2 separate regions of the Homo sapiens genome follow, and region 1 is linked to region 2. The links come from fine-mapping of genetic effects on gene expression. A gene starts in region 2. The other region holds a variant in brackets. All regions are shown on one strand. Distances are between the middles of the regions. Region 1 overlaps TRIM9 (tripartite motif containing 9). Region 2 holds the start of ABHD12B (abhydrolase domain containing 12B).

Region 1 (5,381 bases), 150 kb after region 2:
ATTAAAAGGGATAAATATTTATCACTTAAATTTATCAAAAGGAAATCATCTCCACAATTTGAATTCTATTAAGCAAAACAAAGCTTTAGTTCATAGAGTTGTTTATGAATGTTTTTGAGGGCCACATATGTTCAGCTATGTATGGTGGAAGCTGGCATTCAAAAAGGCAATGAGGAGGGAGTGGGGCATTGCTGAGGCACGAGAAATCATTAAATTCAAAGGAATAAAGAAGAAAAAGGATGGCACTGGTCTTCAATATTAACAATAATCCAATGAGAACAGAAGTTTATAAGAATAATGGGTAAAAGTACTTGCCCCTTTCATTAAGGAAAGCAAATAGTAGGCAGAAAAAAACAATCAATGTGTGTAACAGGGATCACCCTGCCATAAAAATCAGATATGACCCAACACCTTGCAGGGGAAAGGCAACTTCATACTAAGTGAATTATAGCTTCCCTGTGATGTTTAAATTAAATGCTGGATATAACCTTTTTATTTGATTTAAATCTGTACATGCCATAGACATTTATTTTAAGCAATTCTTTCAATGAGTTATATGCAGTTATTAAGGATAAGCTTTTCAATGAGTAATATATGCAATTTTGCATATATATGCATAATCTGAAAAAAAGTAATTTACAGTAAACGAAAGCTAAATACTCACATATACGTTAGTAATACTTAAAAAACACCACCCAGTTGAGTAAACTGTAAACTTTTGGGGCTGGCAAGAAAGGCACAATTTAAATTTATTTAAGGCACAAATTTAAATTTATTACCAAAGTCATAAAGAACTGTGTCTTTTTATATAATAATCAACTGGTAGGCATTTAGTAATTGTTTTCAAATGCAAGGTCTTCGTATAAGGAATGCATTAGTAATTGCTTGAGCAATGCTAAATTTTGGCTTTCACGGCAATTGCTTTTGAACTCTCAGAGAAGGCCTTTGGAAAACATCATTTAAGAGCTCTCTATGCCACATGCAGGGTAATATTGGAGGGTGGGGTGAGGGGAAACCTTCTCCTTGTAAGCTCTGTCACTGATTTAGAGCAGAAAGAAAGCTTTGCTCTGATGAAGAGGCCCGGGCAGAGGCAAGCCTGGGGCTGCACATTTTATGCCAGCAGAGTAAAGAAAGAACTGATTGATAAACTCCATTGCTTTGGAAAACAGAAGGAAGTATACAAAACTGCTAGGCTGTTAGGGAATCAAAAGTTTAACATGGGCATGTGTGCCAAAAAAAAAGGCAAAGAAATCAGTGTGTAATTCTTTGAAAGGGTGGCTTACATTTAAAAATCCATTTCTACCTTGACATGGTTAAATATGAACTTAGGCAATTTACTGGAGGCCAGAACTAAGGTTATTTCTGTGAGGCAAACCTCAAAACATAAGAATGCTAAACAGTACAGAAGGTCATTATTTTACTGTCTTATACAGTTTATGGTTTTTCTCCTTCAGCTATAGTGGAGAATTTATGAGCTCTTAAATGCTGGTTGAATTGCTGGTCATTGTGTCTAGATAAAGCAATCTGAAATTATAGTTGCCAGGGGATCATGGTTGAAAAATATTTAAATGTCTAAGCAGAGGAGAAGCATTATTGTGGGTCAGGGAGGAAGAAAAGAAGAAAGAAAGGCAGAAAGGGAGGAAGAAAAAAGAGGAAGAAGGAACAAGGGAGGAATGAAAAAGAAAAAAAGGAAGGCAGGAAGGAAATGAAGGAAGAAAAGAAGAGAAAACTGTGGCCTGTTACCATTAAATGATACAATTATTACAAGGTGTTTTGGAAACCTACAAGGTTTTACAAGCTCAACAATAAGGACCCTGAGTTTACAAAAAAATAGGCCTCTTTCTGAATATTCAGTAGTAGAGAATTAGGACCTCAGTGTGGAAGACAGGAACCAGTTGGAAAATCAGGCTGTGTTTCCGGCTTGTTGGCAAAAAGTAACTACCTCAAGAAGGGGTATGTTTGAAGTTGATCTCTATGTGTTTGTATGTAAAGAACAACAACAACCACAAAATAGGAATTTTCCCACGACACATAAAAATAAAAGAGGAGAAGGAAACTCTCCCGCCACACAGTTACGTATTAACCGGCGGGTTTCCTTGCGTCCCAGGTAACACCCATACCTGGATCTGCTGGACCATGTTGCGCAGCTGTACCAGAAACTCCTTGGCTTCTTTGGCCCTGTCTGACAGTCCGTTCAGCGCCTGGGAGAGCTGGCTCTGCAAAGACAAAGAAGGAAGCCATGGAGCTGTAATCACAGGATACACCAACAAGGCCAGCGAGACTCAAAACTGAAGAGTCATCAACCTCCTCAGATTCCTCTTGTCTGAGGTTGGACCTTTTTGCTGGCATTTGTACAGGTAGATTCTGGTGTCGAAACTCCCTGTGCTCCTGAGTAGTTTCTCCTTGGAAGCAGTGAACACTTCTGGCCACAGCAGTCAAAGGCCCTCACCAGCTGATATCAACCTAGAATTTCTTCATCTCCTCCTTCATTGATTAATTAAACAATCATTTATTGAATACATATTTGCTAAGGACTAAAAAAGCAAAACAAAATAGTGAGTCAGATGATCTAATTCTTATCAACGTTACTTAGCACAAAGGGCTATTGGTCTGGGTAGGGCAGAAAGAATAGAGTAAAGAACAGGATGAAGGAAGGGGTAGGTACTGGTGTGATCCTCTGGGGCCACTTAAATATAATCACAAATTCAATGGGCAGGATGACATTCCACTCCTGCCTCATCCGTGTCCTCTTCCTTCTCCCAAGTACAGCCCTGCTGCCCTAGCACATTTGTGTCCTCTCCTCACTAGCCTCCGACACCAAGGCTTACTCTCTTTCTTTCTTCCCACACCACCCCATCCATACGAGGAGGCAGTTCTGCTGGGTTGGCAAGGTGTCCAGGTAGGTACT[T/C]GCTCTTCCAGCCTCCTCGTCCGCTGGGGAGGCCGTGGTACACAATCCTGACGGACGACACCTAAGTGGAAGTCTGCTGGGGACTGGAGGGGTCTGAGAAAGCTTTTGCTTTTCTGCTGATACGGAACCACTGTGATTGATGCAGCCTCTCCACTGTGGTTCCTGACTTTAGGATGGATGTGATGTCTTCCGGCTCACATGAGGAGAAGGCCAATAGGGTATGGGTGGAGGGATGGGAGGGGAAGGAGCTCGGTTCTGATGGCATCTTTGAGCAGCTGAGTCAACACCTGAAACCTTCACCACTAGCTTTCTTGTTATGTGATAAAAATTAACTCCTATTCAAGTCACTGTTCTGGAGTTTTCTATTGCTAGCAGGAATTTATATCAAGTATCACTGTACTTGATACAAATTCCTTCCCCTCCTAGCAGTCTGGGTATACCCTTCCGTACCTCAGGTACAGAGACAGACTCCCTTTCCTGCACTGTCTTCTTTTCAAATTAAAGCCTATTCTCCTTGCCAACACAATGATTCATCTACCCTTTCCTTTCTGTAAAAGGGCAGAACCTTAAAATTATATCTCTTGGTGCTGTGAATGCTTTTCTCTTATATTTGTCTTTTAAATACAAAGTTGGGCACTGACTCTCTAAAAATATGCACACCAAATGCTTGGTTGAGGCAATGTGGGATGGTAGAAAGAATATAGGTTTGAAAGGGTGCAGATTCTCGCTCTATCCCCTATAAGTGTGACCTTGAGAAAGTTACCTTTGTCTGAATTACTCCAATGGAAAAGGTGGGAAGAACAGTAATACTTTGTAGTTGGGTTATTGTGAGGGTTGAATGCATTAATCAATGTGAAAGCTTCTGCTAGTTAAGGGAACAATTCTGAATTCTGAAATGCTGCCAGTTACTGGCTGTTCAACCCTTTATACATTGTTTTACCTCATCCATAAAATCAGAGGAAGAATACTATTCTTGGGTTTTGTGGGCATTGCATAAGATACTATATCTAAAGCCCAGAACCCTATTACCCTACTGGTGCACAGTGCATGATGCGTGCTTAATAAATGCTGGCTGTTAACTTTTTTTTTTTTTTTTTTTTTTTTTTTTTGAGACAGAGTCTCACTCTCTCACCCAGGCTGAAGTGCAATGGTGTGATCTTGGCTCACTGCAATCTCTGCCTCCCAGGTTCAAGCGATTCTCCTGCCTCAGCCTCCCGAATAGCTGGGATTACAGCCGTGCACCACCACACCGAGTGAACTTTTGTATTTTTAGTAGAGATGGGGTTTCTCCATGTTGGCCAGGCTGGTCTCAAACTCCTGACCTCAGGTGATCCACCCACCTCGACCTCCCAAAGTGCTGGGATTACAGGTGTGAGCCACCGTGCCCAACCAGCTGTTAACTCTTATTTGTTTTCTTCATTCTTGCTCACACAAACACCTGCTGACTGGAGGGATTCGCAGGACAGATTCCTGGAACAGGGTCTGTTGGAGAACATTTTCGATCACCTGTACTTTGCTCTATGTATTTAGGCTCCAAGAGGCAAGACCAACACAACTGAGTAAGATAAAGCTCAAAGTGAGCCTACAGTTGCAAAATTCTTTATGATTGGGTCTCAGCTACAATATTATTTGGAGTAAAAGTTTCTCCTCAATAACTATTAATATTTCCAGGAGCCCAAGGGATAAAGGAGGGAAAAACGGTCTCATTTGGAAGAGCAGGCAATAATATGAGAGGCATATTTTAAAGAAGAAATTTTTTTTCATTGTTACTTTAGAACTCATATCTTTTTTTTTTCCTGAATGAGTAAAAGTTTGCTGGACTACCATAGTTTTCTTCCTCTTTTTATTATAACCTATGTTTAGTAACCACACTTAGATGTTTCAGTACAGAAGTAAAATTGATTTGGTTACACAGAAGTGAAGCTGCCTGGTGTCTTGTATTCCAACCTTGCAATTAATTGTGTCTGTATAAGACAGACTTGATACCCATAGATTTTTTGACCAGTTGCTGCTGTATACTTAGAAATACAATCATTCCTAGTAGTAGACAAAGAGTTTTGGCCCCATCTAGTCCCAGGATTTTATATGACAAAGCAGTAAGTGAACTGCAAAAATCAATTTATTTCCAATTTCCTCTTTGTGTTTATGGTCCGTCCCAAGAATGCCTTCTACCTGGCTGATGATTGTTCTGGTATTTGATAAAAAATTGCATTATAAGATAAAGATCTAGAAATCATTCTCTTAAGCTTTGTCCACTTGTAGAAATTGAGGAGACAATGAAAAATCCTGGAAAACTATCACTAGAAAGTGCTCTTATTGTAAGGATTTATATGCACATTGTTTTTATAGGTTGGTATTTTAATCACATTTATAAGCTCCATCTGATGTAGAAGAACATTGTTATTGACTGATTTTGTTTCCCAGATGCATTTAAATTCCTACTCTGTGCTAACAAAGATGTTCTGCATTCAGG
Region 2 (5,381 bases):
ACACCCAACTGCCTTATTACCAGCAGTTTACCTTCACAGCTGTACAGCAGCTGAGAGGTGGTCAGTCTTATTCCCCATTCCCTGTTTTTCCAGAATAATTTTAGGTGGTCAAATTAATCTGTCTCCAATCAAGATTTATTTTTCTGCTAGTGCAAATAACATTCAACTGTTGGTTTCTGATGTATTTGTACCATCAGCTTTGTCTTAACATTTATACAACATGACATAGGACATGTTCATTTATATAGTTTATCTGTACATTTCTTAGGTCACTTTTCAAAAGTCAGGTTTGTTGAGGTATAATTCATATTCAGTCAAATTCACCTGTGAGTTATATGCATTGGTGGATATTTATAGTAACCACCACCACACTTGAGATGTTGACTATTCCCATCACTCTAAAATGTCCCTTCGCACCCCTTTGTAGTCAACCTCCCCTCCCCACCTCCAGCCCCTGCTATCCCCTGATTTAATCTCTACCCTTAAGACACTTTTCATTTCCTGTTCTGTGTTCTCATGGTTCATCCTGAAATGAATCTCTACCAGCTGGGATCCTGATTTGTATCCCTACGGTGCCCAATGTGGTACCTGGTACCTAAAAGGTGCTCAGTAAATGGGTGCTGAATAAATGAATGCATATTTTGTTTTTCAGGTTCTATCAAATCATATGGGAGACTTTGTTCCCTGATTTCCAGGATGTGCCATTTGAAAGGGGCTATTTATACTGGGAAAGACCTTCTTGCAGAGTCTTATGCAACCTTTCAAAAAATGGGCCATAGTGATTTCCAATTTCAGAGATTTTTGCTGAGCATTTCAAACATATCCCTAGACTTGGGGCTTACAACTTTGTTCATCCAGCAAGTAGATGGAAATATCCTCTCTCAACCTGAGCAAGTAGATGGAAATAGACTCTGGGACCATATGCAGCTGTTCTTCTCTCCTCCAAGCTCTCCTCCCCATCTTTGATCCCTCCATCTCCACTTGGCATGGCCCCAGAGTCCCATCCAGAGCTTCCCTGAACAAGTTCTGGGAGATTCCAGACCACGTTTATGAAGAACTCCAAGGGTAGAGCCGACATCTGCTTGAAGCTTTCTCATCATGCAGGTTGTGGCTCTGTGAAAACCCACCTGCTGCTGGCTCATCAGTCAGGCTTGGATCCCATTGGTCCTTTCTGAGCTAATTCCTCTTCTATCTTGATGTGTGTGAATCAGAAACTGAACATTCCAGCCAGGTGTGGTGACAGAGACCTGTAATCCCAGCACTTTGGGAGGCCGAAGTGGGAGAATTGCTTGAGGCCAGGAGTTTGATAGCAGCCTGGGCAACATAGTGAGATCTCATCTCTATACACACAAGCGTGCGTGCGCGCGCGCACCAGGCATAGTGGTGCATGCTTGTAGTCCCAGCTACTTGGGAGGCTGGAGTGGAAGGATTGCTTGAGTCCAGGAGTTCAAGTGAGTTCAAGTACAGTGAGCTATGATTGCACCACTGCACTCCAGCCTCAGTGACAGGGTAAGACCATGACAAGAAAGAAAGAAAGAAAGAAAGAAAGAAAGAAAGAAAGAAAGAAAGAAAGAAAGAAAGAAAGAAAGAAAGAAAGAGAAAGAAAGAAAGAAAGAAAGAAAGAAAGAAAGAAAGAAAGAAAGGAAGGAAGGAAAGAGAAAGAAACAAAGAAAACAAACATTCCCAGAGCAAGTATAAGAGTATTAACAGGCAGTGAACAAAATCCCCCTTTGCCCTGACAGTTCCATGAAATGAGCTAGTACTCAAAGAAAACTTCCCTTTCTTGAAAAGTGTGGGTATTTTCCCCCAGACCATCTTACTATCCTCAAGCAGATGGGTTTCCACGCACTTTCTGGTGCTGACAGCCCCCTGCTGTGCCCTCTGAACACAGACACTACAAAAAACCCATTTCACCTCTTAAGATTTGCACCTTGCCTCCAAGATGAAGCCTTGATGCTGGCATCCGAATGTATCCAAATAAAACCTAATTCCCTTTCTTCCTCCTTTGTCCCCACACATGCAGGCCGTGGCTTCCCTAGAGTAGCTCTGGTAGACAGTTCCTGCTCCTAGGAGACAGTTGCACAATGTAAACCTGCACCAAGATGTAAACCTGTACCAAGGTCAAAGTTTCAAGGTGTGAACTCCTTGGTACAATGATGAGGTTCTGCTACATGCTGCTACGTAAACAAAATACCGAAAAGGTCTTAATTTTTTGCTACATGGAGTAATTGTGTTCATAACCCCACGTGGACAGACAAATCATTAGTAAATCAAAGGGAGCCAAAGAAATTCTTTCTATAGTAAGGGTGACAGGGTGGGGGGCTGTGAGGATTTTGGGGGTGGATGGGGAATTGGAGACAAGGAGGCTTCAGAAAAAGAGAAAAAGAAAAAAGTGAGGTTTAAGTAGAGGAAAGCTTATATTCTTCATGAAAATCAAAAGCTGTGGCGGTCAAACTTTTGTGTTAGTAGTACCATGGTGAAAACATATTTTACTGCGTTGCGCGCGCCTCACACCCACACACACACAGAAGTATAATGGAAATCAATTTAAAATAAAATGTAGCATAGCTAGCTATAAGCTTAGGACATCTGTGTGTGTGTGTGTGGCCGCGAACAGCCTGACCCGGGCGGAGCGCACCCTCGGGCCGCGTCTCCCCCGCCGTACCAGCCTGCCTGACCGCGCGGAGGAGGAGGGCGGGCGCGGTGCCGCCGGGGCGGGAAGGTCGCGGGCGGCTGCTCCGGACTGCAGCTCCCGCGGCGGTGGCGGCGTATCGGGACACGGCGCGGGATGGACGCGCAGGACTGCCAGGCGGCCGCATCGCCCGAGCCGCCCGGGCCCCCAGCCCGTAGCTGCGTGGCCGCCTGGTGGGACATGGTCGACCGCAACCTGCGGTGAGTACCGCCCGGTCCACCCCTGGCCGGGCCCCGACGGCTCAGGCTGCGCGGGGATGGGGCAGGGGGCCAGGGCGCGGCCGAGGCCGCAATCCCCTCTGCTGGCCCGGGCCCAAGGCCCAGCATTGTGGCTTCCGGGGGACCTCGGCGGCCCCCTGAGAACTCTAGGGCTCTTTGGTTGCCCTTGCTATCCTCAGCCTCAATCCCAACCTGGACCAGCGAGACTCTCAGGTTTGGTATTTCAGGAAGTTATAACTTTTGGGGGCTTCTGAAATACAGATGCCAGGGAGATGGTTGAATTCCTACACCAATCTCTATTATCTGACCATTTTGCTAACATACAAGATGGATCTGAATGACATTAGTAATAGTGACAATAGTAATATATGTTGTAATCTTGGACGGGATCCTCTTAGGTCAAGGGCCTATCTGTGTAGGTGGAAAAGAATCAGAAAATCCGTGCCTAGTTCCCTGAGTGTGAACTCCCTGGCATGTATTTAAAGAAAACACCTCCAGTATGCTAAAGATGTACATAGTGTGTTGAAACCATAACTTGGCATTACCTGTGCCAAGTTCTTATGTTGTTTAAGTCTGAAATGTATCAGTGGGTGTTTCGGGTTTTGTTTCTGTTTTCTTCCTCCCATGGATCCTCGGTTTAAACAGTAATCTTAAATTACCTGAATCCACCTGCAACATATTGTCAGTCTTGTTTGCACTGAAGCCAGGTATTGGTTGGAGATCGTGGACCCAGGACACGTGGGTATTTCATTTAGTTTTGTTGGTGTGGGAAGGTATTGGCATTTTTACTTCCCTCTTTCTATTCCTTTTGTTTAATTTGTGCTGATTAGAAAATATCCAAAAATTACATCCAGACACAGGAGACCTCACTTTGGAGTGCCCAGAGTGATGATGACAAACGGGGATCTTTTCTCTCTCTCTCTCTCTTTTTTTTTTCTTTTTTGAGACAAGGGTTTCACTCTGTTGCCCAGGCTGGAGTGCAGTGGCACAATCTTGGCTCATTCCCAGGGCTCCAGCGATCCTCCCGTCTCAGCCTCCCCAGTAGCTGGGACTACAGGCACCTGCCACCACACTGAGCTGATTTTTGTATTTTGTGTAGATATGGGTTTTCACTACATTGTTCAGGTTGGTCTCAAACTCCTGGAGCTCACAGATTCCACCTGCCTTGGCACCCCAAAGTGTTGGGATTACAGGTGTGAGCCACTGCACCTGGTCTCTTTTCTCTTCTATTCCTTTTTATTCTCATTGCAGACAGCAGAGTGCTGGCAGCTCTGCAGGGGCCCAGTCACCTAGAACCCATGCCTCCCAGCTCTGGGTTGGATCTGAACACGTGGCAGAATGTCCTGATTGCACTTGTCAAACTGCATATTAACAGGACTTCTCTCCCAGATGTGGTGATTCTGGGAACGTTGACATCTAATGTTTTTCACTTTGATGGTCTCTGTGGAATTGATGGCTGATTATTTAACATTTATTTGGCAGTAAAGGGCATTTATTAGGCAGAGAATCAAAGTTGCACATCATACTCATAGAGAATAACCCACTTTGTTGATAATGGAGTGGGAGATAGGGAGTTGGGGACCATCTATTACTTGCCTTACTAATTAGTGAAAAAAGTCTCAAGAGACACTTCCTGAAAGAACAAAATACTAGCGTATGTCTTCATCTGAGCAGAAGATTATTGGCTACCATAAGATGTGCTGAGGCTGAGGCCCAGACCCATTTCCACTATCCCAAGTCCTCTTTGATTCTTGGAGCCGGGTTCACTTAGGTGAGCAAACCTTCATGGAGGGCTTGCCATGCCCCTGGCCCTGATCATGGCACTGGAACTAGTGGGATGTGTTGTGAGACCCAAGAACATTTCATCATATGATTTTTTCAGTGGCTATTTTTTAATGCCTTGGGAATCTAGTTATTTATTTTACAAAAATTTTTATCAAATCCAGTTGCTGCTTAAGGTGGGTGGGCCAAGGAGAGTAAGTCTCCACTTTACAACTGGTTTTCTTTAAATTAGAAAAATGAGGCCAGGCATTGTGGCTCACATCTGTAATCCCAGCACTTTGGGAAGCCAAGGCGGGCAGATCATGAGGTCAGGAGATGGAGACCATCCTGGCTAACACAGTGAAACCCTGTCTCTACTAAAAATACAAAAAATTAGCCAGGCGTGGTGGCACATGCCCGTAGTCCCAGCTACTCCGGAGGCTGAGGCAGGAGAATTGCTTGAACCTGGGAGGCGGAGGTTGGAGTGAGCCGAGATCGCACCACTGCACTCCAGCCTGGGTGACAGAGCGAGACTCCGTCTCAAAAAAAAATAATAATAAAAAAAGAAAAATGGAAAATGTGCTCCAGAAGGAAGTTGGGGGAAACCAAAGGTTTATTTTCCTCCTCATTTCCCCCATTCCACCCCAAGTCATTACAATCCTAGATAGTGCTCAGAAAATGTGCAGGAGTAGGCTGATAAATGTGTTCAT

What was found. PIP is the estimated chance that this variant, and not a neighbour inherited with it, causes the effect.
Region 1: its variant is the best candidate, but not a certain one, in a credible set for the expression of ABHD12B in sun-exposed skin (GTEx, PIP 0.85).

The regions. Positions count from the first base shown.
Region 1 is chr14:51,023,145-51,028,525 of GRCh38, forward strand. TRIM9 (tripartite motif containing 9) reads right to left here. Exons shown (of 13, transcript NM_001387360.1): 2 at 2,121-2,216. Among named protein-coding and RNA genes, the nearest start is that of TRIM9, 69 kb to the right of the region's middle. RefSeq lists an enhancer at 5,247-5,381. The variant T/C (reference allele first, on the strand shown) is at 2,909.
Region 2 is chr14:50,869,387-50,874,767 of GRCh38, forward strand. It overlaps ABHD12B (abhydrolase domain containing 12B), which reads left to right and starts at 2,667. Exons shown (of 13, transcript NM_001206673.2): 1 at 2,667-2,892. The coding sequence starts at 2,789.